4 linked regions of the Homo sapiens genome follow. The protein of the gene in region 3 purifies or fractionates together with the protein of the main gene of each other region. This does not show direct contact. Each region holds a gene or a part of one and is shown on either strand. Other genes may lie near its edges.

Evidence for each region.
Region 1: the proteins of CIMIP4 (region 3) and UBR2 purify together in Homo sapiens (affinity purification with mass spectrometry; 3 studies listed by BioGRID and IntAct, with this or other methods). This does not show direct contact.
Region 2: the proteins of CIMIP4 (region 3) and ATE1 purify together in Homo sapiens (affinity purification with mass spectrometry; 3 studies listed by BioGRID and IntAct, with this or other methods). This does not show direct contact.
Region 4: the proteins of CIMIP4 (region 3) and CARM1 purify together in Homo sapiens (affinity purification with mass spectrometry; 3 studies listed by BioGRID and IntAct, with this or other methods). This does not show direct contact.

The regions. Positions count from the first base shown.
Region 1 is NC_000006.12:42,567,010-42,574,032, reverse strand, and holds part of UBR2 (E3 ubiquitin-protein ligase UBR2), read right to left. Parts: intron 300-7,023; coding exon 40-299; intron 1-39. UniProt on the Homo sapiens protein: E3 ubiquitin-protein ligase which is a component of the N-end rule pathway.
Region 2 is NC_000010.11:121,925,026-121,932,431, forward strand, and holds the start of ATE1 (arginyl-tRNA--protein transferase 1), read right to left. Parts: upstream 3,007-7,406; 5' UTR 2,925-3,006; coding exon 2,819-2,924; intron 2,707-2,818; exon of another isoform or gene 2,478-2,706; intron 2,448-2,477; exon of another isoform or gene 1,866-2,447; coding exon of another isoform or gene 1,709-1,865; intron 1,682-1,708; exon of another isoform or gene 1,398-1,681; intron 1-1,397. UniProt on the Homo sapiens protein: Involved in the post-translational conjugation of arginine to the N-terminal aspartate or glutamate of a protein. This arginylation is required for degradation of the protein via the ubiquitin pathway. Does not arginylate cysteine residues.
Region 3 is NC_000022.11:36,997,830-37,004,852, reverse strand, and holds part of CIMIP4 (ciliary microtubule inner protein 4), read left to right. Parts: intron 1-827; 5' UTR 828-865; coding exon 866-887; intron 888-2,549; coding exon 2,550-3,016; intron 3,017-4,868; coding exon 4,869-5,013; intron 5,014-7,023.
Region 4 is NC_000019.10:10,916,546-10,923,568, forward strand, and holds the end of CARM1 (histone-arginine methyltransferase CARM1), read left to right. Parts: intron 1-150; coding exon 151-232; intron 233-3,049; coding exon 3,050-3,135; intron 3,136-3,331; coding exon 3,332-3,421; intron 3,422-3,890; coding exon 3,891-4,028; intron 4,029-4,113; coding exon 4,114-4,203; intron 4,204-4,288; coding exon 4,289-4,401; intron 4,402-4,504; coding exon 4,505-4,582; intron 4,583-4,829; coding exon 4,830-4,898; intron 4,899-5,069; coding exon 5,070-5,212; 3' UTR 5,213-6,530; downstream 6,531-7,023. Other genes in the region: protein YIPF2, read right to left, coding at 6,746-6,862, 6,950-7,023. UniProt on the Homo sapiens protein: Methylates (mono- and asymmetric dimethylation) the guanidino nitrogens of arginyl residues in several proteins involved in DNA packaging, transcription regulation, pre-mRNA splicing, and mRNA stability.

The sequences.
Region 1 (7,023 bases), on a different chromosome or scaffold from region 3:
AAACAAGAGCCTCCTAGAAAGAAAATTAAAATATTTTACCTGCAAGAATATGTAGGCTCTCCTACTTTAAAAACACGACCACAAAGATGAGAAGGTTTGTTTGCTTGCTCAAGTTTTGGAAATCCAAATGCAGGATCTTCACCACAAAGGTACCATTCCATTGGTCCCAACAAAACATGCTGTGCCAGCATGTCTTCTTTCTGTGGAAAAGGGTTGGGACCCCTGCAGTAGATTTTGGGTACATAGTGGGCTAAATGCTGGTACACTTCTCTAGTGAGGTCAGTTGCTTGCAGCCATTTCTTTAAAAGAAGAAAAGAGAAGAAATGGTTTTAAACACCAACAAACTAATTTGAACAAATTCACCCTACTTTCTTTTAGGTACAAAAATAATGACAAAAGCATATTAAAATATTTTGTTTACAACACTCACCACCGTACGTTAGAAATTTAATCTATTAAAATGCCAAGTATGTTTAAATCCTACTTTTAAGTGTAAGTAAAATTAAAATGAAACAAGCCTCCCTCCTTCCCTGCAAAATGACTCTTGAAGCAATCTTCTCTAGGCAGTACCAGAAAATAATTACAAGAAATCATTATATAAGATATGAACCATTGAGCTCACCTAATGTCCTTCCTAATGCTTTGCTCAAATGTTATTCTCATTGTGATATCAATTCTCACGTCAGTTTGTCCATAGGAAGAGTGTACGGTGAATATGAACAGCCAATATGTACGGTGAACATGAACAGCCAATACACATTTCTTAATGATTGATAAGCAAGTTTATATACCAGTCTCTTATTGAATAAGTCAGTCCACAAGAGACTGTTGTACCAATTATGCCTTCTTTCTCTGATCAACTTCTCTCTCTCTATAAGGCCTTTTCCGTTTGCTCTCCCCACTAAAAACAAATTTTAAAGCATGATTCTACTTAGATCTCATAGGTACCAACTCAATAACTGAATGCATGATCTCCCCTCCATGCTCCACCAAAATCTGTTATTTTCTCCATTTCCAGCTCAACCTGGGTATCCACACCGAAAAATCTGAAAAGCTTCCCAGCACTTTGGGAGGCCAGGCCAAGCAGATCACCTGAGGTCAGGAGTTCAAGACCAGCCTGGCCAACATGGTGAAGTCTCTTCTCTACTAAAAATATAAAAATTAGCTGGATGTGGTGGCGCATGCCTGTAATCACAGTTACTCAAGAGGCTGAGGCAGGAGAAATCGCTTAAACCCAGGAGGCAGAGGTTGTAGTGAGCCAAGATCCAGCCTGGGCGACAGAGCAAGAGTCTGTCTCAAAGGACAAAAAAAAAAAAAGACTCACTTCTGCTAGAATGCAGTTAACTGAACCGTGAACAAAACCCACAGATGGAGGGAAAGAGGAAGGGGAAGTGAGTTGAAAAACTACCTATTGGGTACTATGCTCACTACCCAGGTGCAATATACTCATGTAACAAACCTGCACATGTATTCCTTAAATCTAAAGTAAAAGCTGAAATTAAAAAAAACCTCCAATGTTTACCTATGGATTACTACCTAATTCCAGTTACATTTTTATTTAAAAAAAAAAAAAAAGTATGTTCAAGTGATATGTAACATCATAAGAAGTCAACATAAGGTCTTCATTTTAGCTATTACTTGTATATTCTTCAGACCACTCCTTCTAAAAACAACATACAGAGAGATTTTAAATATGCATGAGGTGATGTATATTAACTTTCTAGTCAATTTCTGTTTTCAGAGAACTTTTACTAAAAATGTAAAAATTTTGTTCATAAGTTAAGGGACTGGATAGAAGCTTATAACCAAAAACGGTGAAAGAGTTTTCATGCTTAAAGTGAAACTAAACTATTTTCCAAATATTACTAACATTGTTGTGTTTACATTATGCAAGTAGGAAAGAGACTAAATTACTTTCAAAACAACAGCATTTCTTCCCTGGTGGCCAAGTGGTTAGGGAAAAAAAAATAAAAATAAAAATAAAACAGCAGCAGCAGCATCATTTCTTAGGAGACAATCCTACAGGCTTTAAGTATTCTCTCCCTTCAGAGTGACTCAATCAAAATTTTATATATACATACACATCCTTTAAGCTCAGTAATTATAAAGAGGACAAGTTTTAAAAAAAGAAAAAGAGTCCTCAACAAGCATACTAGAATCTTATTCTTTGAGCTAAAAGACCTCGTTTTGGCCTCATTCAAAGGTAAATGTCTCATTTTTCACCCATTGTCAGCAAACCAAAACAAGAATGAAGGTAGTCAAATGATCCTAAGCGCTTTTTTTTTTTTTTTTTTTTGAGTCTCGTGCTGTCGCCCAGGCTGGAGTGCAGTGGTACGATCTCGGCTCACTGCAACCTCTGCCTCCCAGGTTCAAGTGATTCTCCTGCCTCAGCCTCCTGAGTAGCTGGGGTTACAGGTGTGCACCACCACACGCGGCTAATTTTTGTATTTTTAGTAGAGACAAGGTTTCACTATGTTGACCAGGCTTGTCTCAAACTCCTGACATCAGGTGATCTGCCCACCTCGGCCTCCCAAAGGTGCTAGGATTCAATTTACTCTTTATGAAAGAAAAATTAAGCAATAAGACCAAAATAATTCACCTCCATGATCCTAGAAAGTTAAGTGCTTCGGACTTTTTTTTACAACATATTGAAAGATTTTATTTAAAAACCAGTTTTTTTCCTTATATTTTATGTTCCCATTCCTGTAAAACTTCACTGTTGCAAAATTTTAATACAAGAATGAAAGGTTACTTTAGAAGGGATGCTTTTTTTTTTTTTTTTTTTTTTTTGAGACGGAGTCTTGCTCTGTCACCCAGGCTGGAGTGCAGTGGCGCGATCTCGGCTCACTGAAAGCTCCGCCTCCCAGGTTCACGCCATTCTCCTGCCTCAGCCTCCCAAGTAGCTGGGACTACAGGCTAGCATGGATGCTTTCTAAAAAAAAATTATGCAGTCTAGTAACTGTAACGAGAGCAAATTTGTTCATAGATTTCTTCAACAAAAATTCAGACGCTAGTATCAGCTTCTGGTTAAGAAAAAAAAAAAAAATCGGCCAGGCTCTTTGGCTCATGCCTGTAATCCCAGCACTTGGGAGGCCAAGGCGGGTGGCTCATTTGAGTTCAGAGGTTCGAGTCTAGCTTGGGCAATATGGCAAAACCCTGTCTCTTCTAAAAATAAAAGAAGATTAGCTGGGCATGGTGGTGCATGCCTGTAGTCCCAGCTACTCAGGAGGCTGAGGTGGGAGGATCACCTGAGCCCCGGAGGTTGAGGCTTCAGTGAGGCATGATCACGCCACTGCACTTCAGCCTGGGTGACAGAGTGAGATCCTGTCTCAAAAAACAAACAAACAACAAAAAAAAAACTAGCCACTTTACATAAAAATATTATTAGTAAAACAAGCAAGTATTTCACTCTTTATTACATATTATTATAAATAACAAGACTTAAAAGTCTGGTCCAAGAAAGGCATGCATATGCTCCCCATTTTTCAAATCTTTACTACTCCTGGGCACAGTGGCTCACGCCTATAATCCCAGCACTTTGGGAGGCCAAGGTGGGCAGATCACTTGAGGCCAGGAGTTCGAGACCACCATGGCCAACATGGTGAAACCCCATCTCTACTAAAAATACAAAAATTAGCCAGGAGTGGTGGTGCACGCCTGTAATCCCAGCTACTTGGGAGGCTGAGGCAAAAGAATCGCTTGACCTCAGGAGGTGGAGGTTGCAGTGAGCCTAGATCACGCCACTGTACTCCAGCCTGGAGGACAGAGTGAGACTCCGTCTCAAAACCAAAAACTTTACTACCATTATATGAAAAAATCACAATCACCTAAAAGATTTGGGCTCTATTACAGGCACTTTAAGCTGATTAAACATACATACTTAATATAAAAAGCAAGAAAAATTTATGACTGTCTTTCAGAAGTAGCTCACACATTTCCCCAAAGAATAAAATCTATAGCTTTTCATATTAGTTCTAACATATGCTAACTGCAACTGTTTCTTCAACATGAAAAATTAAGATTTCCAGTTTGGTTGGCCTTTTGTCTTTATTTCAGACACTTGTAGCTGTCACACCCATGTGGCATAAGAGAGTAATAAGCATTCACTATCTTACTACAAGTCCCTCTTAAGGGAAGTAAAGAAACTGTCAACTCATTCCTCTAAAGTAAACATGTTATGACAATGTTTCCAGGAGCTTTCCCTCTATTAAATACTAAATTTAAGCCTTGGGATAGAAAGCAAGTACAATAAAATAAAAATGAAATGAAAAATGAAAGAATCCCTAGAGGTTAGTTAGCCTTTTATTACAGTCTCTATTATTCTATACCCAATTAAAATTGTATCCTTTAACTACTTTTGGTTTTGCTTTCAAACAAGGATAAGCAACATGTAAGTTAATCATAAAACAACTAGTGCTCATAACCATAAAAACAATAGTGTTTAAGTGGGAGTTTTAGGGAATATATTGAGAAAAATTTTAAACAAATTATATTAAGAGCTCTACAAATTAAGGAGAATATTTACAAATAAAATATAGAAATTTAATAGGTCAAAAGACTAATTGAAAATAGGCAAAGAAGACATAAAAATGGCCAATAAGCTCATAAAAAGATGTTCCAACATGACTCATGAGGGAAATGCAAATCAAAACCACAATGAGAAGGCATAACACCCAAAAGAATGGCTGTAATCAAAACACAGGCAAAAACAAGTGTTGGCAAGGATCTGGAGAAATTGGAACTCTCATGCACTACTGGTGGGAATGTAAAACAATGCAACTGCTTTGGAAAAATCTGGCAGTTCTTCAAAATAGTTAACATATGACCCACCAATTTCACTTCTAGGTATGTATATACCCAAGAGAAACAAAAGCATATGTCCCCACAAAAATTTGTAAAAAATGTTCACAGCAACATGATTCATAATACCCAAAAAGTAGAAACAACCCAAATATTCACCAACTGATGAACAGATAAATAATATATGGTTTATCTATACAAAGGAATGTCATTTGGCAATAAAAAAGAAAGAATTACTGACACAGGTTGAGCATCCCTAATTTGAAAACGTGAAATCCAAAATGATCCAAAATCTGAAACTTTGCATGCCCACACGATGCTCAAAGAAGTGCTCATTGGAACATTTGGATTTTGGATTAAGGATGCTCAACTGGTATAACTGCAAATATTTTAAAATCCAAAAAAATCCAAAATCCAAAACACTTCTGGTGGCAAGCGTAACAATACTCAACCTGTACATGGTACAACATGGATAAATATTTTATTTTTATTATTTTTTTTTTGAGACAGAGTCTCGCTCTGTTGCCCAGGCTGGAGTGCAGTGGCGCGATCTTGACTCACTGCAAGCTCCGCCTCCCGGGTTCATGCCATTCTCCTGCCTCAGCCTCCCAAGTAGCTGGGACCACAGGCGCCTGCCACCACGCCCGGCTAATTTTTTGTATTTTTTAGTAGAGACGGAGTTTCACCGTGTTAGCCAGGATGGTCTCGATCTCCTGACCTTGTGATCTACCTGCCTTGGCCTCCCAAAGTGCTGGAATTACAGGTGTGAGCCACCGCGCCTGGCCCAACATGGATAAATATTTAAAACATTATCTAAGAGAAAGAAGTCAGCCACAAATGACAATATGTTGAATTCCATTTATACGAAATATCCAGAATAGGCAAATCTACACAGACAAAAATTAGTAGTTGATTAGACCTCAGGAGTTTAGGTGTGAAAGGGAAGTGACTGCCAATAGGTACAGGATTTCTTTTTTGGGGTGATAAAAATGTCCCAAAATTGATCATAGTGATGATTGCATGAATCTGAATATACTAAAAACCACTGAATTTAACTGTACAGTATGTGAGTTATATCTCAATAAAACGGTTTAAAAAATGTACAGCAAAAAGATAACCAATACAGACCTAAAACTCTACATAAAACTTAACAAATTCATTATTTATTAAAACAAAATTTTTTTTGAAGACAGGGTCTCACTGTATCACCCAAGATGGAGTACAGTGGCATGATCATAGCTCACTGTAACTTCTAACACCTGGGCTCAAGCGATCCTCCCTGCTTAGCCTTCTGAGTAGCTAGGACTGCAAGTTCATGCCACCACACCCAGCTTATTTATTTTATTTTATTTTTTTTTAGTAGAGACAGGGTATAGCTAATGTTGCCCAGGCTGGTCTCAAACTCTTAGACTTAAGCAGTCCTCCCACCTCAGCCTCCCAAATAGCTGGGATTACTGGCATGAGCCAGTGCTCCCAACCTGTATTTCTTTTATATTCAGGGAAAAAGATGGGGTCCCGCTCTGTCACCCAGGCTGGAGTGCAGTGGCGCGATCTCGGCTCACTGCAACCCCAGCCTCCTGGGTTCAAGCAACTCTCCTGCCTCAGCCTCCCGAATAGCTGGGATTACAGGGGTGCACCACCATGCCCGGTTAATTTTTGTATTTTTAGTAGAGACAGGGTTTCACCATGTTGGCCAGGATGGTCTCTATCTCTTGACCTTGTGATCTGCCCTCCTTGGCCTCCCAAAGTGCTGGGATTACAGGCAAGAGCCACCACACCCGGCATGTTTACTTTTAAAACCGTAATCACTCACTGGAACATACTATAACCATATGTAGTATAGAAAGTAAACAGAGCCAAGAAGTGTTGGGAAAGTCATACTTATGGAGTCAATTCTAACAAGAAAAGAGAAGAATGAGAAGAGAGGGCCACTGTAATATCCTAAACTTACAAATATTAAAGAGTCAGCTTAGATACTTTTCTTTGTGAGGCATACTAGCTGGAATGGATGGGATCACAAAAAGTTCTTCCTCCTTATAACAGGAATAAGAAAAGCGGTGTGTAAATGAAATGTGGAAAGGTTGACACTAGTGCTCATTAGGTGATTTTTAAATGGAAGTGATCCTAACAAATTACCAATGACAGAGGTCTAAAGCCTACAATCACTGTTTTCTCTACTTGTTTCTCTTCCCTAAAATGTGCTTTCAACCTAAGAAAAAACTT
Region 2 (7,406 bases), on a different chromosome or scaffold from region 3:
TAGTTCTCCTGATTTATATACAGGTATATATTTACAGTACAGTCTTGAGCATCAAAAATTGGAGAAAAGTATGTAACAATATTCCTTCTAAGTGTAAGAACTGAAAGTAACTCAGCTGGGCACAGTGGCTCACGCCTGTAATCCCAGCACTTTTGGAGGCCAAGATGGGCAGATCATCTGAGGTCAGGAGTTTGAGACCAGCCTGGCCAACATGGTGAAACCCCATCTCTACTAAAAACACAAAATTAGCCGGGAATGGTGGCACATGCCTGTAATCCCAGCTACTTGGGAGGCTGAGGCAGGAGAATCGCTTGAACCCAGGAGGCGGAGGTTGCAGTGACTCGAGATCGAGCCATTGCACTCCACACTCCAGCATGGGCAACAAGAGTGAAGCTCTGTCTCAAAAAAAAAAAAAAAGAAAGAAAGAAAGAAAGTAACTCAAATGCCAAGGAACAGGAAGATGATTACAGGGGCTATGATGTTGTCAACATGATGGAATAATCACGCAACTATGAAAAAAAACGAAGACTATGAGGAAACATTTAAAGGCATATCAGAACTAAAGGCTTCATGAGGTGGTGGCTCAAGCCTATAATCCCAACACTTTGGAAGGCCAACATGGAAGATCACTTGAGGTCAGGAGTTCAAGACCAGCCTGTGCAACATACCAAATCTCTGTTTTCACAAAAAAAAAATAATAATCATAATTAATCAGGTTTTGTGGCCTGTGCCTGTGGTCCCAGCTACTTGGGAGGCTGAGGTGGGAGGAGGCTTGAGACCAGGAATTTGAGATTTGAGGCTGCAGTAAGCTATGAACACACCACTGCATTCCAGCCTGAGCAAAGGAGCAAGACTGCCTCTTAAAAAAAAAAAAAAAATTAAAGTTAAAAAAGAAATGGGCCAGGTGCAGTGGCTCATGCCTATAATCCCAGCACTTTGGGAGGCCGAGGCGGGTAGATCACCTGAGGTCGGGAGTTCAAGACCAAGCCTGGCCAACATGGTGAAACCCCGTCTCTACTAAAAATACAAAAAAATTAGCCGGCCGTGGTGGCGGGCACCTGTAATCACAGCTACTCGGGAGGCTGAGGCAGGAGAATCCCTTTAACCTGGGAGGTGGAGGTTGCAGTGAGCAAAGATTGTGCCACTGAACTCCAGCCTGGGCAACAAAAGTGAAACTGTGTCTCAAAATAAATAAATAAATAAATGGATTTTTCCCTTTTGTAAACAGTAAATCACATCAGAGATATGACAGGCTTGATAGAGCAGAATATAGTGGGAAAAGCATGGCACTGGAGTCCAACAGAAATATCCCGACACCTGGCAGGCACTCACTCACACTAAGGAGTTACCCAATAAGCCTCAATTTCATCATCTGTAAATAAAAAAATAAAACTCACCTACCAAGTAAGTAGATGCCCCATAATAAAGAGTATTAAAATTAAAATCGAGATACTAGAAATTGATGATTATTTTCTCTTGATGGAAAGGTTGCAGGCAGGTTTCTTCGACAAAACGTGAAATACAAGACATTTATGTTAGCCAATTTTCTCTTATCACAATTATTGGAAAAAAATAAGTAATGACCTATTAAAATATTAATTTTAGGCACGTTTAATGTAACTTATTGATTTGATAAATATTATAGCCAAAATACAAAAATTCTGAAAAAGAGAAGGTAGAAATCCACAATACTCTAAGGCCATATTACCACTGTCACGATTTGGTGTACTTCCGGGCCTTCTTCCTTTCAGAACTGTAATCATGTCGCATAAGCCATTTGCATCCTGTTGATTTTCTCCGTTTAAGTCCAAACTGGAAGCATTTTTCCATTTAGTCTTCATAATCCTCACTTCTAACGATTGCATAACTGTCTACTCAAAACCGCTGCCCACAAGTAGCACTTAATAAACACTTTTAATGAAGGAGCAAATGCACACACCGTTATCGACCAAATCATTCCCCACTTACACCTTTTTCATGGAAAATGCCTGTGTGTTTTCATGCGAATCTCGTTTTCCACAAAGCTAGACTGTTCTATTAAAATAATAGAGTCTACATTCTATATTGGCAAATGCATGGCAAGAGAGGAAATAAACACGATGTTTTGTTTACCAGCAACAAATCTCCCCCAAAGAAATCTGAATCACGATGGAAAAACAAAACAAACTTGTGGGCTGGCTTTGCTGTCGTCCGGGTGGGTGGAGGAAAGACACGGCATATAAGCAAATGGTAAAAATTTCAAACAGATCAGGACAAACAGAATCCCTCGCCGGTAGCGACCGCGGTCACCAGTTTCTTGTCCTTTTTTTTTTTAACTTTTTTTTTTTTTAACCCAGAGATGCAAAGGGCTCATCCTTCCTGTACATTCGTCCAGGGAAGTCTGATTCATACATGACCGGCACCTGTGTGCACACCCACAGCTCCCTCTGCACCGCGTTTCGCCCTCGCTCCCGGGACGCTCCCACCGCAGCACCCACCGGTCAGCCCCGGCCATTAACTACGGCTCTGGGGCGTTCCCTGGCACTGCGCGCCGTCCTTCACCTCACACAATCTACCCCAGACGGGCGTCCGTCTCCCGACTCTGGGGAGACCACCACGATTTCGAGAGTACGGGCACCGGTTAGGATTTTCCTGCAGAACAGGCACCGCGAAGCTGCCCCGCTAAGCCGGCGCCGCGGCCCTCCCGAGAGTGCCCCCTCCGTCTCGGCCGTGGCACTGGGGCCAGGGGCTCCGGCCCCCTCGCGTCCTCGCTGGGGGACCCTGGGATCCCGAGACCCGGGCGCCCGGCTTCCCACGCCCGCCGGCCCGGCTCGCTCACCATTGGAGCGGCTGCCCGACTCGTTCTTGCAGTAGCCGCAGCGGTAGAAGTCCTCGCTAGGGAAATAGTCCACGACGCTGGGCGAACCCCCCGCCCAGAAAGCCATGGCCTCGGCCCCGCGAACGCTCAGCCGCCCGGCCCCGCGTCGCTAGCGCGGCCGCCGCCGCCACCCCACAATGCAGCGCGCCGCCCGGGAGCCTCCCGAGGCTCGCGCGAAGCCACTCGGGCGCCCGCAGGCCCGGCCGGCCCGGCGCCTCTTGGAGCTGACGCCGCCCGCGCCATCTTGACCGAGGGCAGCTTTCCACTATTTCCGTTCCTTCTCCATAAGGGGCCGCCGTCGTCAGTGAGGGTGAGGCGGAGAGACAGAGCGGGAAGGGAAACAGGATGGGGAGAGTCAAGAGGGGAAGGGAAGCGGGAGTCGGGGTGCGAGCCTGCCCTTTCCCCCGCCGAGGGCCTGTGCGGGGCGCGGCGGCCGCGCCAACTCCGGCGTCGGGAACACTCACCGCAGGACGCTTTGCCCTCCTTGGAATCGCAGTAGCCGCAGTGGTAGCCGGCCCTGAGGCCCTTGTATTCCACCACCGACGCCATGGCCGCCGCGAGGGTCCGCTCGGGCCGACCACGCCTCTTGGCGCCCGGGGCCGACCTCGGCGAAGCGCTGGGGCCCGCGGCGGGAGGGGTGGAGAGCGAAGCCTGGCGCGGGGACCCGTGGGCGGGGATGGTGGTCGTGTCCCCAAGCCCTGCGTTTGGGCCGGTGCTTCCCACAGCTGTGCGTTATCAGCCCCATTTCACAGGTAAGGAAACTGAGGACCGGAGGTTGTGATTATCCCAAAGTCATTCCCGGCGGGTCTCGGATTGAAAGTCAGGCCGCCCCTGGCCACCGTGTAAGTGACTTGCTGGAGCTGCTTCCAGACCAGCTGGCACGCACTCCAGTGCCCTGAATACAAGAACACAAGCAGGTATTCCGTGAATGGCGAGGGTTCGCAAATTAAAGAACTCTTAACGGCTTTTAAAGGAAACAACTGTCAGCTAGAGACAGTTGCTGTCTTGTACCACTATAAGTCCGGTGCCTCATACGATTTTTAATGAGATGCTGGAAATACAGGGTTTGTTTGTTTTTTTTAACTCTACAGTCCAAACAAAACAGTTTTACAGGCTGAATCCAGCCCATGGGCCTCCATTTTGCAACCACTATTTTAAGGAAGATTTAAGGAATAAGAGTCTAGGGCAAAATATAAAATTGAGGCTCATGCCTGTAATCCCAGCACTTTGGGAGGCCGAGGCGGGCGTATCATGAGGTCAGGAGATTGAGACCATCCTGGCTAACACGTGAAACCCCGTCTCTACTAAAAATACAAAAAATCAGCCTGGCGTGGTGGTGGGCGCCTGTAGTCCCAGCTAGTCGGGAGGCTGAGGCAGGAGAATGGTGTGAACCCGGGAGGCGGAGCTTGCAGTGAGCCGAGATCACGCCGCTGCACTCCAGCCTGTGTGACAGAGCAAGACTCCATCTCAAAAAAATTTTTTAAAAAATGAGTTCCAGGGGCGGGCGCGGTGGCTCACGCCTGTAATCCCAGCACTTTGGGAGGCCGAGGCGGGTGGATCACGAGGTCAGGAGATAAGAGACCATCCTGGCTAACATGGTGAAACCCCTTCTCTACTAAAAAATACAAAAAATTAGCGGGACGTGGTGGCACGCGCCTGTAGTCCCAGCTACTCGGGAGGCTGAGGCAGGAGAATGGCGTGAACCCGGGAGGCAGAGCTTGCAGTGAGCAGAGATCGCGTCACTGCACTCCAGCCTGGGCGAAAGAGCGAGACTCCATCTCAAAAAAAAAAAAAAAGAGTTCCAACAAGGTAATATGCCTTATCTTTCCCTCTGCGTGCACAGATAATTTAAGCCTGTCTGTCCTCATAGTTTTCCCAGTCAACAATAAAGCTGATGATACAATATTGTTTTAAGTGTGTTTAAAAAAGTGAAATGAAACTCAGAGAAATAGAAATAAATTTTTGAGGTGAGTTTTGACATTCTTGACCCCAAGGGCCTGTGTTAGATATGTACCTAGCTGAAGGAGGTTTCTTGGTGGCCTGGTGACTTGTTGAAGGGGGCCAGCCCCTCCACACCTGTGGGTGTTTCTCGTCAGGTGGGACGAGAGACTGAGAAAAAAAGTAAGACACAGAGACAAAGTGTAGAGAACAGTGGGCCCAGAGGACCAGGGCTCAGCATACGGAGGACCCGCGCCAGCACTGGTCTCTGAGTTCCCTCAGTATTTATTGATCACTATCTCTACCATCTCGGTGAGGGGGATGTGGCAGGACTATAGAGTAATGGTGGGGAGAGGGTCAGCAGGAAAACGTGAGCAAAGATCTCTGTGTCATAAGTTTAAGGAAAGGTGCTATGCCTCAATGTGCACGTAGGCCAGATTTATGTCTGGCTTTACACAAACATTTTAGTGCAGTAAAGAGCAATATTGCCGCCAGCATGTCTCACCTCCAGCCATAAGGCGGTTTTCTCCTATCTCAGTAAATAGAACGTATGATCGAGTTTTACACTGAGACATTCCATTCCCAAGGAAAAGCAGGAGAGAGATGCCTTCCTCTTACCTCAACTGCAAAGAGGCCTTCCTCTTTCACTAATCCTCCTCAGCACAGACCCTTTATGGGCTGGGGGACGGTCAGGTCTTTCCCTTCCCACGAGGCCATATCTCAGGCTATCACATGGGGAGAAACCTTGGACAATACCTGGCTTTCCTGGGCAGAGGTCCCTGTGGCCTTCCACAGTGCATTGTGTCCCTGGATACTCGAGATTAGAGAATATCAATGACTTTTACCAAGCATACTGTCTTCAAACACATTTTTAACAAAGCACATCCTGCACAGCCCTAAATCCATTAAACCTTGAGTCAACACAGCACATGTCTGTGCAGGCACAGGGTTGGGGCTAGGGTTACAGATTAACAGCATCTCAAGGCAGAAGAATTTCTCTTAGTACAGAACAAAATGGAGTTTCTTATGTCTACTTCTTTCTACGAAGACACAGTAACAGTCTGATCTCTCTTTGTTTTCCCCACGCTTGTTAATACTGCCAAGCATCACTTGTGCCTCCCACAATCGGAAGGCACCTAAGGAGTGGCCATGTAATATCCAGCAGCTTCTCAGGCGTTCCTCCAACTTCTTAAACTTGAAAACTGCATGCTATATCTCAGTATTCATGTTCTTAAGTCAAGCTTCATCCATTTTGTTCTTTATGGCAGATTTGACTATTCCCAGTCCTTTCCCAGACCGGCTCTCATTTTGAACAAAAGCAAAGCCCGTGGAATGCATCAGAAAGAGAGCAGAATATGCTCTGGACAGAAGGTGGACCAGGAGGCTTTTTGGTCTTAATATTCCTGTCCCACTTCACTTCTGTCCCTCTAAAGCCTCATCCTTATCCTAAGTCCTACACTAACCTCAGCCAGGGCACTTCAAGACATGCCAGCCTTGAAAAATAATGAGAATGTCCAAAGTCCTAGGCATATGTGGTGTTTTTTGGTTTTTGATTTGTTTGTTTGTTTGTTTGTTTGAGACAGAGTCTAACACTTGCCCAGGCCGGAGTACAGTGGCATGATCTTGGCTCACTGCAACCTCTGCCTCCTGGGTTCAAGCAGTTCTCATGCCTCAGCCTCCCGAGTAGCTGGGATTACAGGAGTGCACCAGCATACCGGGCTAATTTTTTATTTTTAGTAGAGATGGGGTTTCACCATGTTGGCCAGGCTGGTCTCAAAGTCCTGACCTCAGGTGATCCTCCTGTCTCGCCCTCCCAAAGTGCTGGGATTACAGTTATGAGCCACTGCGCCTGGCTTGTCTTTTCTTTTTGAGGCAGTTTCACTCTGTTACCCGGGCTAGAGTGCGGTGCCACAATCAAAGCTTACTGCAGTCTCAACCTCCTGGGCTCAAGTGGCTGAGATTACAAGTGCACACCACCACGCCTGGCTAATTTTTGTATTTTTAGTAGAGACGGGGTTTCACCATGTTGCCCAAGCAGGTCTCAAACTCCTGAGCTTGGGAGCTCAGCCCACTTTGGCCTCCCAAAGCGCTGGGATTACAGGCGTGAGCCACTGTGCACGGCCAGCATATGTGTTAACTCCCTTAATTCTTATAGCAACTTCACAAGTTAGGAAATGTAGATCAGAGAGGCTAAATAACTTACCCAAGGTTAAACAACTAATAACAGACATTTGGAGGGAGAAAAGGTAATAAAGATAAAAGAAATCGAAATGGAAAAGAGATAAACAAATACTAGGTTTGGAGCTGTGTGAGTTCCTAAATGTCTATTTTGCTCAAGGTCAGAGGCAACTTTTTTGTCTTCCATGAAAAAAAAAAAATACATAGCTTCATTTAGTTTCCTCCTTTTTGGGGGAAAATGGAGGACACTATTAGAATGTCGTTCTGCTTATGAGATGCTAGCAATAGACAGTTGTCTTTGCTTTTCATTTTCTTACTTGACAATAACATGGTGACAAAAAAATTTTTCGGTCCCATTAACTTCTTTTTTTTTTTTTTTTTTGAGATGGAGTTTCACTCTCATCACCCAGGGTGGAGTGCAATGGCACAATCT
Region 3 (7,023 bases):
AGCCAGATGTGGTGGTGCACACCTGTAATCCCAGCTACTCAGGAGGCTGAGGTGGGAGAATTGCTTGAACTTGGGAGGTGGAGGTTGCAGTGAGCTGAGATTGCACTACTGTACTCCAGCCTGGGTGACAGAGTAAGACCCTGTCTCAAAAAAAAAAAAGAAAGATCACATAAGAAAACAAAACACAAGCACGAAAGCTGCAGAGGCTTTTGAATCTACCCCTCTAATTTGAATCCAAGGCCTTAGAGAGAAGACTGAGTTTACACCAGAGCAAAGTGTGGGTTCCTGCTCTTGGTTCTCCTTCGTGGTGGCTAAGCTGCTTCCCTTCCCTGAGCACGAACGACCATTCAGCAAATGGATACAATCCTATTTGCAGGAAGACAAATGGTTGCCAGGATGGGAGCCGGGGCAATGGGCTTCACAGCCAGGGGCCTGCTAGGGTCTCCTAGGGTGGTGGTGATGGGGCAGAAGAGGAGGAGGAGATGAAAGGAAAAATTATGAAGGAGTAAAATGAGCCCAGGGTTCCAAGGCTGCTTGAGATAGGTCTTTGAGGACTGGTGGGGTGGGGTGGGGGTGGCCAGGGCTTTTCAGAGAGGGCAGAGGCTGCAGAAGTCCAGGAGGCAGCCCCTGTGCCAGGGGTGATGAGTGAATGGGGCAGAGGCTCCGTGGGTCTGGGCAGTGCCAGAGGGCACCAGGGGCAGCTTAGGAACCTCTGATCAGGGGCGGGCAGACAGCCACAGGCCTTCCTGTTCAGCTCCCAGCTCATCCTTGTTCACAGAAACTCTGTGTGTTATCTGAGACGATGAAACGTGGTGCTTTGTTTACAGGACTAAGCTTGGAATTGCCTGTCCCACAGCAAGAGGCTATGGAGCTGGGCCACGGAGCAGGTAGGACAGGCAGACCAGGGATGTGCTGAATGCACATCCAGGCTTCTGGAGGGACTCCCTGGGGCAGCAGGGCACCGGCCCTTTCTCCTCCCGCTCCGTCTTGTGTTGGCCTCCAGACCCACCATCGGCCCAGGCTTCCTAGGGGGGCATTCTGTTGGAAGACAGAAGGAAAAAGGAGGGAACGGAATTACTGAGCCCTCCCATCCTGCCATGTGCAGGGATTATCACCCCGATATGGTCTCCATCCTGAGGGGGTGACTCAGGTGCTCTGAGTCTTGTGTGTACCAGAAGGGCAGGGCTGTGGGGGAACATGGTGAGGGGCCTGGCCTCAATGGATGGGAGGTATATATGGGGTTACACGTGAGCCAAGAGCAGGGGTAGTGTAGCCCAAGGAGTGGAGGGGAGTGTTCCAGGCAGGAGAAATAGCTCAGGCAAAGGCTTGGGAGGGAGAGACGGCTGGCACTTTTGTGGAGTCCCGAGAGCAGGCACTCTGCCCTGAGGACAAGAGGAAAGATTTTGATGCAGGCGTGACTGAGTCAGGCCCGCTCTGAGAATGGTCCCCAGGGGTGAGTGCAGGTTGGCTGGGGCTGGCAGGTGGGATGGGGAGAAGAGAGTCCAGTGAGTTGGGGCAGCGATCCTGCTAAAATCTTCCTCCAATGACCTGAATGCCCAGGGGCTTGTTAAACACTCAGATTCAGGGCCTTTCTGATGCAGCAGCTCTGAGAGGGTCCCAGGCATCTGTATTTTTAATGAGAGCCTAGGGAATCCTCATACATGGCCACATTTAGATAAACTCTGCGGAGGTTTATCATCCAGGGGATATGATGGTTTAGCTTGGGCTCAGAGGCCTGACGGCCAAGATGCCCAGCCCTTATGTATCTTTTAAGAGGACTTGAAGTTTTGGAGGGAAGACCACCAAACATATTTACAGCTGTAATCTGGGGTGGAGGATGAGGCCAGGCTGTGAGGAGACACTGAAGGCTGAGAGCAAGAGACCTAGAGAAGCGGAGGCTGTGGGCAGGGACGTGGGAGACAGGGAGAGGCGGGGAGGAGAGAGCCTGGGAGGTGGCTGGGATGGTGCCACTTCTCAGCCCTGGCGAAGGGAGGAGGTAGGTATTGGGGAGCAGTCTTGCATTGGAAGCAAAGTCTGGAAGTCCCATCCAACTCCAGTACTTCCCAGGCATGTGGCTTAGCCCCAGGAACGCCTCTGCCAGTGCCGCTGCTGCCAGATTCTCACTGCGGAGAGTGAGGGGGAGGTTTCAAGATGGAAAAGTGGGGAAGGGAACTATCCAAATGGAGCCAGGGACATGAAAGCACAGACAGGCCAAGTCCCTTGCTTGCGGTCACACAGCTAGGCCTCAAGGCGGGACAGGCTTAGGCGGCAGCCCTTGTTGCCCCAGGCAATGTGGACTAACCCTGCCCGTGGGAGGCACGCAGGCTGGCCTCTCTTCTCCCATTGTGTCTCCTAATTTCCCACCCATGCCTCTGGTTCCTGCGCTTCCTCTCCGTCCCTCTCCCCTTCTCTGGCTGTGGAGCTCTGGGGCTCTTTGTCTGTCCGTTTCCCCTCCTCACCCCCATCTCTGCCCCCTCCCCACCCTCTACTTTCTGCCCTTGTCTGCGTGTCTCTCTCCCTCCCCCTCTGTTTCTCTTTGTCCTGCTCAGGTACAACCACTTTCACCAGGGCCCATCTGAATGACAAGGAGGGCCAACAGGACTTGGACCCCTGGAAAGCGGCCTACAGTTCCTTGGACACCTCCAAGTTCAAGAACCAGGGTCTGTCATCCCCACAGCCCCTGCCCCTGGGAGCCAGCGCTCAAGGCAGCTCCCTAGGGCAGTGCCACTTGAAGGAGATTCCCCCTCCACCCCCGACTGCTGCCAGCAGGGATTCTCTGGGCATGGACCCACAGTCCAGGTCCCTGAAGAATGCGGGCTCTCGATCCTCCTCGAGAGAGAACAGGGCCACCTCGGGAGAGGGGGCTCAGCCATGCCAGGGGACGGATGACGGTCCCAGCTTGGGGGCTCAGGACCAGAGGAGCACGCCCACGAACCAGAAGGGCAGCATCATTCCTAACAACATTCGCCACAAGTTTGGGAGCAATGTGGTGGACCAGCTGGTCTCCGAGGAGCAGGTGTCATAGCAGGGGCCAGGAGGGTGATGCAGAGTCTTATAATGAGGACATAAGATAAACTCACTCTTGAGTACAGAGTCCCTATAATAATACCACTAGAAAGCAGTATCTCCTGAGCATCTGCTGTGTGCCAAACACTGTGCACTGTTTAAACTTCACATATAACAAGTTGTTACATCTTCCCAGCAACCCATGAGGAAGGTACTATTATTGTCCTCATTTTATAGATAAGGAGACCGAGGCTTAGAGGAGTTAAGTCAGTCAACCAAATTCACCTAACTGTGCGAGACGAGGGTGCAAACTGGGTCGGCAGATTCTGGAACTCTGATCCTTAATGACTTTGCAGTTAAAAGCCTTTTGTGTGAATTGGATGTTTTCCATGTGATCAAGTCTCCCAAAGAAGACAGCATTTAGTGGATGGATAGCATTTATTGGGAATCAGAAGACGTGCGTTTGAATCCTGGACCTGATCCTAAATGCTGGATGACTTTGGATAAGTTACTTACCCTCTCTGGGCTTCAGTCTCCACATCTGTAAAGCGAGGCAGTTGCACTAGATCAGGCTGACAAATACATGGTGAGCGTATCACAACCCTCCCAGCCTGCATTCATGGCAGACATCACTAGTCAATGCCAGCACTCTTTTCCACCCGATATAGCATTCCAGGCAGTCATTACAAATCAACTGACACGAGATAAAATTCATCTACCGTTTCTGGTCAAATGCTATGTTCTTTCTGTCCTGGCATTCTGAGACATATTTTTAAAGCCACCATCTCAACCCTCATAGCAACTGCATTGTGTGGAAGGTCAGGCAGGAGTTATTGCTTCCTTTATAACAGATAGTATAACCAAGTCCCAAGGAGGGGCTACGATCTGCTTGGGTCACAAAAGCTGGGGGTCAGGCTTCTCCTAGGCTCCCCTTCCACTCTGTCATCTTAAAGTGCAGTGACCCCACCACCAGCAAGTCTGGAAGGTCACAGTCTTGACATGTTCTGCCCCACTTGGAGGAACTTGTCCCAATTTGAGGTTGACTCTGTGGTCACCACCTCTCACCACCCTGCCCAGCCTTGGGAGAAGTCCTTTCTCTCTTCAGCCACCGTTGTCCCTGGCTGGAATCAAGAAATCCGTGTTTTCTGCCCATCTGTAACTTATGTCACAAGTGTCATTGAGCCAGCAAGTGTCAGAGCTGGAAGCCACTTCAAAGACCATCCAGTTCCACCCTGCCTTCACATTTTACATGTAGGGAAACTGAGGCCTAGAGTGGAGAAGAGGCTTGCTGAAGTCAACAGCTGATATATTGCAGAACTGGAACTCAAACCTAGGTGTCCTGCCCCTGGACCTGGGCTCAGCTTCTCTGTGTGTCAGTTTCCCTATTGGTATGAAGAGGGAGTTGGCCTCATTGAAAGTTAAGCACCCACCCAGAGCTGCCCTGTGTGGTGCCTCAGTTGTAGGAGGCAAGCCAGGGCTCTGTGCCCTGCCAGCCATGTGAACTGGGTGATCTTTGGTCTCCTGAGGCCCGCTTTCCTCATTTATAAAATGGTGGGAAGAGTGGCACCCTATAGAGACCCCCCGTCCCAATGTTGCAGGTAGCAGATGCTCAATGCTTGGAAGAGGTTTTATGATCATTAACTTGATGCCCCCCACCCACAGCAGTGCAGATGATGAGAGGAGTTGGGGCTGGGGCCTTTGTATACCCCAGCTCCCCAGCCCTGTGAATAGGTTGAGGGCTGCAGGCTACAGGTGGGATCGGGGTGGGGAGGGCAGGGTCAAGGGAGGAGGAGTTGGAGGGAGATATGGGGCTTGAAACTGCTTTTCCATCCCCTGTCTGTCATCCCTGCCTCCCTGCTCAGGCTCAAAAGGCTATTGATGAAGTCTTCGAGGGCCAGAAAAGGGCAAGCTCATGGCCCAGCAGGACCCAGAATCCTGTGGAAATCTCCTCCGTCTTCTCAGACTACTATGACCTCGGCTACAACATGCGGTCAAACTTGTTTCGAGGTCAAGTCAAAGGGCAAGGGTGGGGCCGTGAACACCCATGGTCTCCCAGGCATTGGGCAGGGAAGGCCTTTGGGGTTTCCACTCCATATGGGGTCTAGGACCCCAGGGCACATCTTCAAGGACACTTATTTCATGCCCATGTGTCCTCTATGTCAGCTTGCGAGTGCTGGGAACATCCAGTCCCCTGTCCTTGATGTGTGGATGATTCATCCCAGTTGGCAGTCAGGCACCTCTGGTCCCTCCCCTCCCATCCCCCCCTCCCCTCCCCTCCCCCCTCCCCTCCCCTTCTCTCCCCTCCCCTCCCCTCCCCTCCCCTCCCCTTCCCTTTCCTTCCCTTCTTTTGTTTTTTGAAGTCTCACTCTGTTGCCCAGGCTGGGGTGCAGTGGCACAATCTTGGCTCACTGAAATCACCACCTCACAGGCTCAAGAAAGCAACCCTCCCACCTCAGCTACCCCCCTGCCCCCATAAGTAGCTGGGACCACAGATGCGCGCCACCATACCTGGCTAATTTTTTTCTTTTCTGTTTTTTTTTTTTTGTATTTTTGCTAGAGGCAAGGTTTCACCATATTGCCCAGGCTGGTCTCAAACTCCTGGGCTCAAGTGATTCACCCACCTTGGCCTCTCAAAGTGCTGGGATTACAGGCATGAGTCACTGCGCCCTCCCCACCTCTTGTTCTTAATCTGCCAGTAGGAGGCCCAGGACCCAGTAGAACTGGGACTGCTGCTCCCCACACCCCTAGCCCCATCCCAGGCACCTTTGGTCACAGTGACAATATCAAGTTTCTTTGGTTCAAAGCTCAGCTCAGCCACTCACTAGCTGGGTATGACCTTAGGTGGGATCCTCAACCTCTGCAAGCCTCCGCTGCCTTCTCGGTACAGTGGGGATGATAATGAGAGTATGGCCCTTGCTGGGTCATTGGCAGGACTTTATGAAGTGCCACATGAAGGTGCTTGGCCGAGGCAAGTCGTGAGCACTCAGTAGCTGTCAGGCTATCATTTTTCTTCTCCAGAGCCTGGAGGTGGCGCCACCTGGGAAGAAAGGAAGGGTGGGTTGGAGGCTCTGACATTTACACAGGGTTTCCATTGGATCAGTGTAGTCCTGTTTGGTTGGGGTGGGGAGAGTGCTATTAGCTCCATTTCACGGGCAGATTTCAGATCATTTGCCTTAGAACTCTCAGTAGTCTGCATTGTGCCTAGGACTCAAAGTCAGGTGTTCCTTCTGCCTTCAAAGCCTCATAGTCTTTTCTTGACCACTAAGTCACCTCCCTAGCTATGATCCTGTTCCCAGGGTCTTCTGGATGGCTCAGATGCCTGTCACAGCACGCAGGGGCTTCTCTCTGCCCCACATTCTGGTTTGGCCTCATTGCAAAATGAGGCTGTTTCTGGTATGGCTCCTTCCTCTCTCCTCACTCCAGGCCCTCTCCAGTGCTCCCAGGGCCTGACAAACCTCTTCCACCTGGCTCGGATCCCTGTCACCTGAGGAACCAGGTGCCCACTGGAAGCCTTTCTGGAGTTTTCTCTGAGCTTGGAGAAGGGATGGTGTCAGGGAGGAAAGCGAGAATACAGTTCTGCTTGTTCTCTGTTCCGGGCCTTCCAGATCCTGCCTTCCAGTTCTCTCTTTAACAACTATCGGTCACCAAATAGCTATTCCATACAACTTTGTATGATAATGTCTACATAAATGTAAAATAATCTATTTTTAAAAATGTCCATGTCCCATCATCCCACCTGGGAAGTAGAACTGTGCCAAGGGTGTGCTGGAGCTCATAGCAAATTGCACCAGCTCACAAGAGGCAATTGTCTCTCTGAACTGACTGGCACATAAATGCTGTCTTAAAATTGGCCATGCTAGTAGTATTTACACTCTGGAAATTGGCAAACACTATGAATCAGGGCTTCACCCTGCCACACAGTGCTGTCAGTGTGCCCATCCATCTGTCCCTCTCTGTTTCCACCCACCCAGGGTTAGCCTTTATACTTGCTGTTTGAGGTTGGTGAGGCTGGTATGG
Region 4 (7,023 bases), on a different chromosome or scaffold from region 3:
AGGGACAGCCCCAGCTCCCCAGAGAGCCTGCACTCCTCTTTTTCTGAAAGACTTGGGCTAGATGAGGGCTGACTGGGAGAGAAGGCAGGGCTACCCCACCTGCCTCTTCTGCAGCCCTGACCTTGCTGTGGGGGTGGGGCCTGTCCACAGGTACCAGCCATCTTTCCATGGAGTGGACCTGTCGGCCCTCCGAGGTGCCGCGGTGGATGAGTATTTCCGGCAGCCTGTGGTGGTGAGTAGGGCCTCCAGGGTACTGCTGCAGTGATCACTTGCCATTGCTGTGCAGCTGTGCAGCCCTCAGGAAGCTACAGCCCCTCTCTGAGCCCTCTCCTCTGCCCTGCACAGCGCTCTCACAGAGATTTGGGCCAAAAGTGTCAATGCATGTAGACACTTAGCACACAGCACACATGCAATACATGTGGAACATTATTAGGTGAGGCTAAGGCAGAGGGGGCATTTAGGCTCAGGAGTTCAAGATCAGCCTGGGCAACACAGAGACGCCATCGCTATTTTTAAAATTAAAATAAATAAATAATAAAAATAAAAAAGAACCATTACTAGATGAATTTATCCTTGGTGAGCTGATGTGATTTATTGATTGATTTTACTTGAGATTTTTGATACATAGATCCATGATTTAAAAATCAAAAGGAAAAAAAAGCTAGGTGCAGTGGGTCACACCTGTAATCCCAGCACTTTGGGAGGCCAAGGCGGGCAGATCACGAGGTTAGGAGATTGAGACCAACACGGTGAAACCCCATCTCTACTAAAAATACAAAAAATTAGCCAGACGTGGTGGCGGGCGCCTGTAGTCCCAGCTACTCAGGAGGCTGAGGCAGGAGAATGGCGTGAACCCGGGAGGCAGAGCTTGCAGTGAGCCGAGATCGCACCACTGCACTCCAGCCTGGGCGACAGAGTGAGACTCCGTCTCAAAAAAAAAGAAAAAAAGGTTCCATTTTATTCTGTTTTCCCCCTGCTCTTGATGTTTTTCATTCGTTTTGGGAGACTCTTGGACTATCTTGGATACTATCTCTTTAAACACTACGTCTGCCCCATTCTTTCTCCTTCTGGGATTCCAATTACGTGTACAGTGAACCTTTTCACCATATCTCAGATGATTGTTATACTCTTTTCTGTCTTTTCCATCCATTTTTTTCTCTCATTTTCTTTTTCTTTTTTTTTTTTTTTTTGAGACGGAGTCTTGCTCTGTTGCCCAGGCTGGAGTGCTGTGGCATGATGTCAGCTCACTGCAACCTCCACTTTCCGGGCTCAAGCGATTCTCAGACTCCTGAGTAGCTGGGAGTACAGGCGCTTGCCACCACTCCCAGCTAGTTTTTTGTAATTTTAGTAGAGATGGGGTTTCGCCATGTTGGCCAGGCTGGTCTGAAACTCCTGACCTTAGGTGATCCGCCTGCCTCGGCCTCCCAAAGTGCTGGGATTACAGGCGTGAGCCACCATGCCCAGCGTGTTCAGTCTTTTGTGATATCACTGGGGAGTGAATGAGTGAAAAAAGCAGGAAATATTTTGGTGGTATTATGCAAATTTTGTATTATGATGAGGGTGCCTTGGAAGAGGCCACAGTTTGAGAAGGTGCTGCTTTATGGTACAGCCTTTGGTAATGTTAATGCAAGTCCAGTGGTTAGCCTCATTACCAATATGCTGCTGAACCACCCGTTAGCTTTTATTGTTTTTTGAAACAGGATCTCACTCTGTTCCCCAGGCTGGAGTACAGTGGCTCAATCACTTCATGGCTTACTTCAGCCTCGATCTCCCAGACGCAAGTGATCCTCCTGCCTCAGCTTCCCAAGTAGCTGGAACTATAGGAGTGTGCCACCATGCCCGGCTAATTTATTTTTTTGTAGATATGGGGCCTCACTGTGTTACTCAGGCTGGTCTTGAACTCCTGACCTCAGGTGATCCGTCCGCCTCGGCCTCCCAAAGTGCTGGGATTATAGGCATAAGCCACTGCACCTGGCGTTGAGCCTCTTATTAGCGGCTTTCTGCTTGGTGTCTTAGCCTCTGATGCCCTGCCTCGCTCAAAGCTCAGGAGTTGGCCAATTTCACAAGCGCACTGAGTGTGCACCGCCCACCTTGCCCTCCTGCACTTATTTCCCTTTGCTTTGACATCACAGCCCCTTGAATCCGAGCTGCCTTGGTAACCCTGAGCTCCCATTTTGCTTTCCCCACCCAAGGAAGCTGCTGAAAGGTCGAGGTGGCCGTTTTCTGCCCTCCCCATGGGGAAAAGGTAGAGGCCAGAAAGGGCTCCCTCCAGAAAGGGCATTTCCCTCCTTTCCAGGAGCTTGATCCCCAAAATCCTGGCCGCTCTGGTTGGTCACCAGTGCTTCCAACAACTGGTTTATTCTTTTCTTTGGATTTTATTCGGTTTACATAGTTCATGGCAGGTGTGTTAGTCGGATATAAACATTGCTGGGAGTGGACAGCAGCACTAGTGTTGTTGTTGTTTTTAAGAGACAGGGTCTCCCTGTGTTTCCCAGGCTTGATTCACACTCTCGGGCTTAAGCGATCCTCCTGCCTCAGCCTCCTGAGTAGCTGGAGTTACAGGCATACAATTCCACACCCAGCTAGCACCTAGTTCTTTAACTTGCTTTTTTGGTTAACTTGCTTAATGATTTAGCTTGGAGATCTTTCCTCATCTGTTCATAAAGAGCCTCTTCATTCTTTCTCACGTCCGCATGGTCTTTGATGGGAGAGCCATCACTGGTTTAATTAGATGGTTTCCAGTGTGTCGCTACCACGGACAATCTAATTATACATGTAAGTTTGTTGATGTGTTCATGTATCTGGAGGTTAAACTCCTGTAGTGCCAAATCTTTTATGTGGATAAACACTTGTCATTTGGAGAGCTGTCACCTGATTGCCCTCGGTGGCGTTGTGCCGGTCCCCTCCTCACGGCGTGTCTGGGAAGAGCAAGCTCGTTTTAGCTGCACAGCCTAGAAGCCGTGGGCAGACCTGGGGGAAGGGGCAGGGCTCTCCCCTCCCATGCTGGCCCTGGCGTCAGATGCCACGTCACACCTGTGGTCTCTCCCAGGACACATTTGACATCCGGATCCTGATGGCCAAGTCTGTCAAGTACACGGTGAACTTCTTAGAAGCCAAAGAAGGAGATTTGCACAGGTACTGGCACCCACACTCCATCCTCCCAGGCCTGGCTCAGGCCGAAGGTCAGGGCCACCCCTGGCTCCCGCCGGCATCCTGCCGTCCCAGGGCAGATGGTGGGCGGGGGCCCCAGGCCTCTGCACCTGGCACCCCCTCTTCTCTCTCGGCAGCGCCTGTCTGGCTTCCCCAGCAGCCACTGCCCTTTGCCTTCCAGGATAGAAATCCCATTCAAATTCCACATGCTGCATTCAGGGCTGGTCCACGGCCTGGCTTTCTGGTTTGACGTTGCTTTCATCGGCTCCATGTGAGTGCCGCAGAGCAGCCCATGCTGCCTCCTCCCCACTCCCAGGGCTTCCTGCAGCTGCAACCTGGCTGGGGGGGTGGAACATGGCTCCAGGTTCCACCATCCCTTCCAATGGGAGTGAGAGCCTGTCTCGGAGCAAGAGACTGTTGTGGGTGGGGTGTGTGTGTGTGTGTGTGTATGTGTGTGTGTGTCCTGTGTTCCCAGTGTCTGTCCCTCATGGGTCTGTGTCTGTCTCTTGGCACATGTCAGGGTGAGTAGGGATCTCGTGGTTGCGGGCCCCTCGTGTGTACATGTATGCCTGCTCATGTTTGTGTCTGGGACTGCCTGGGGGCCAGCCTGTCTCTGCTCCAGGGTCCCAGGGGTCCCTGGCAGAGGGGGCAGGTGCTTGGGGAGGACTCAAGGCATACAAGGTGGTGGCTCCAGTGGTGGCGCCGGCCCAGTCAAGTATGTGCCTGTCCCTGCTCCACAGAATGACCGTGTGGCTGTCCACAGCCCCGACAGAGCCCCTGACCCACTGGTACCAGGTGCGGTGCCTGTTCCAGTCACCACTGTTCGCCAAGGCAGGGGACACGCTCTCAGGGACATGTCTGCTTATTGCCAACAAAAGGTGCGACTGCTCCCTGGGGCTGGTGGTGGTGGGCAGGGGTCCATCTGCCCAGCAGCTCATGCCACGGCCTGCACCCTGTCCGCAGACAGAGCTACGACATCAGTATTGTGGCCCAGGTGGACCAGACCGGCTCCAAGTCCAGTAACCTCCTGGATCTGAAAAACCCCTTCTTTAGGTAGGAGGGGCCCCTTGCCTGCACAGGGGGGCGCCCCGGCCCTGCAACCCCCTTGCCCCTGCCCATGGCTCTGTCTCTGCCATAGATACACGGGCACAACGCCCTCACCCCCACCCGGCTCCCACTACACATCTCCCTCGGAAAACATGTGGAACACGGGCAGCACCTACAACCTCAGCAGCGGGATGGCCGTGGCAGGTGAGCAGGGCCCACCCCAATGCCCAGCCAACCCGGGAGGCCGCCCTCGCCGCAGGCCTGGCCCCTCTGCCTCCAGCCCTGACGTCTCCCTCTCTGGACACAGGGATGCCGACCGCCTATGACTTGAGCAGTGTTATTGCCAGTGGCTCCAGCGTGGGCCACAACAACCTGATTCCTTTAGGTGAGTGTCCCCCAGGGCCAGGGGCAGCAGGGAGCCATGCCCAGGACTGCCCAGGGGCCGGGAAGGGCCTGTGGTGACCAGGGTCGGCCTCTGCTTGGTCCTTTCACCTTTTCCTCTTCCTGGGGGCTCTCGGCCGAGGCTCTCCGTCCTCTCTGCCTCGCTCTGCAGCCTGCTGCTGTGCATGGGCTGGGTGGCTGGGGGCGGTGACGCCGTCTCCCTTCCTTCTTTCCTCCCTCTCGCTGCGCAGCCAACACGGGGATTGTCAATCACACCCACTCCCGGATGGGCTCCATAATGAGCACGGGGATTGTCCAAGGTAACGAGGGTGGCGGGGGCAGGGCCCGTGGGGGCCGAGCTAGCGTGTGAGTCGCCATCCTCTGTCCGGCCGCCCGCCTGCCCTCTTGCCTGCCCTTTCTCTCTCTCTGTGACTCTGCCTGGGGGCTGGGCGGGCCAGGGCAGCCCCTCACTGCCATTGCCTGCTCCACAGGGTCCTCCGGCGCCCAGGGCAGTGGTGGTGGCAGCACGAGTGCCCACTATGCAGTCAACAGCCAGTTCACCATGGGCGGCCCCGCCATCTCCATGGCGTCGCCCATGTCCATCCCGACCAACACCATGCACTACGGGAGCTAGGGGCCCGCCCCGCGGACTGACAGCACCAGGAAACCAAATGATGTCCCTGCCCGCCGCCCCCGCCGGGCGGCTTTCCCCCTTGTACTGGAGAAGCTCGAACACCCGGTCACAGCTCTCTTTGCTATGGGAACTGGGACACTTTTTTACACGATGTTGCCGCCGTCCCCACCCTAACCCCCACCTCCCGGCCCTGAGCGTGTGTCGCTGCCATATTTTACACAAAATCATGTTGTGGGAGCCCTCGTCCCCCCTCCTGCCCGCTCTACCCTGACCTGGGCTTGTCATCTGCTGGAACAGGCGCCATGGGGCCTGCCAGCCCTGCCTGCCAGGTCCCTTAGCACCTGTCCCCCTGCCTGTCTCCAGTGGGAAGGTAGCCTGGCCAGGCGGGGCCTCCCCTTCGACGACCAGGCCTCGGTCACAACGGACGTGACATGCTGCTTTTTTTAATTTTATTTTTTTATGAAAAGAACCAGTGTCAATCCGCAGACCCTCTGTGAAGCCAGGCCGGCCGGGCCGAGCCAGCAGCCCCTCTCCCTAGACTCAGAGGCGCCGCGGGGAGGGGTGGCCCCGCCGAGGCTTCAGGGGCCCCCTCCCCACCAAAGGGTTCACCTCACACTTGAATGTACAACCCACCCCACTGTCGGGAAGGCCTCCGTCCTCGGCCCCTGCCTCTTGCTGCTGTCCTGTCCCCGAGCCCCTGCAGGTCCCCCCCCGCCCCCCCACTCAAGAGTTAGAGCAGGTGGCTGCAGGCCTTGGGCCCGGAGGGAAGGCCACTGCCGGCCACTTGGGGCAGACACAGACACCTCAAGGATCTGTCACGGAAGGCGTCCTTTTTCCTTGTAGCTAACGTTAGGCCTGAGTAGCTCCCCTCCATCCTTGTAGACGCTCCAGTCCCTACTACTGTGACGGCATTTCCATCCCTCCCCTGCCCGGGAAGGGACCTTGCAGGGACCTCTCCCTCCAAAAAAAGAAAAAAAGAAAAAGAAAGAAAAAATAAATGAGGAAACGTGTTGCAGCACAGGCAGTTTTCTTCTCCTTCTGCTCCCCTGTTTCTCATACCCCCAAACTCAGATGCTGGAGCTCAGGCCCGCCGTGTGTGCACCCAGGCAGGAGCGGGCGCTGTCCAGGCTGGGCCGCCCCCTTGGCTCTCCCTCCTGTTCCAGGGGAGCCATAGGAGGGAAAGCAGGTGGCCCGGGGGGGATATGGGGGCCCCAGCCCTGTCCCAAAGCTCCCTGCTCGGCTGCCCCTCGCCCGCCTTTATATAAATTCTCTGAATCACCTTTGCATAGAAAATAAAAGTGTTTGCTTTGTAAGAAAAGTCTGGAAAGTAGCAGAATCATCTCAAGGTGTCAAAGGAGCCTTCAGTCATCGTCTGGGGGGCAGGACAGGCAGAGGGGTTGGTCCACTTAGGTGTTGCCTGAAAGAAAGAATTGTCTGGGAGTGGCCCCAGAACCTCTCGCCTTGACTGGGAGTGGGAGGGCAGCCCCCTTAGCCCAGCTGGGAATAGTCCTTACCTGTGGGACCCGGGCCTTCCTAGGAGGGGGCCAGGGACTGCGGCAAGGTAGGGGACAGCGCGATGTTTGAGGGCAGAGATGTGATTTGGGGTGGAGGAGCCACGTTCTCCGGAGGCAGCGACTGGAAGAAGTACAACTGCACAAGACCCCTGGGGTCAGAGGCAGGGCCAGCCCATGCCCCCCTAGCCCCTCGGCCCCACCTGTGGCCACCCCAGACCCGTACCTTACAGCCCATGGCCAGGAGGGCGTGGAGCAGCACGACCACGGACAGCAGCACTGTGGCCACCAGCCTGGTGT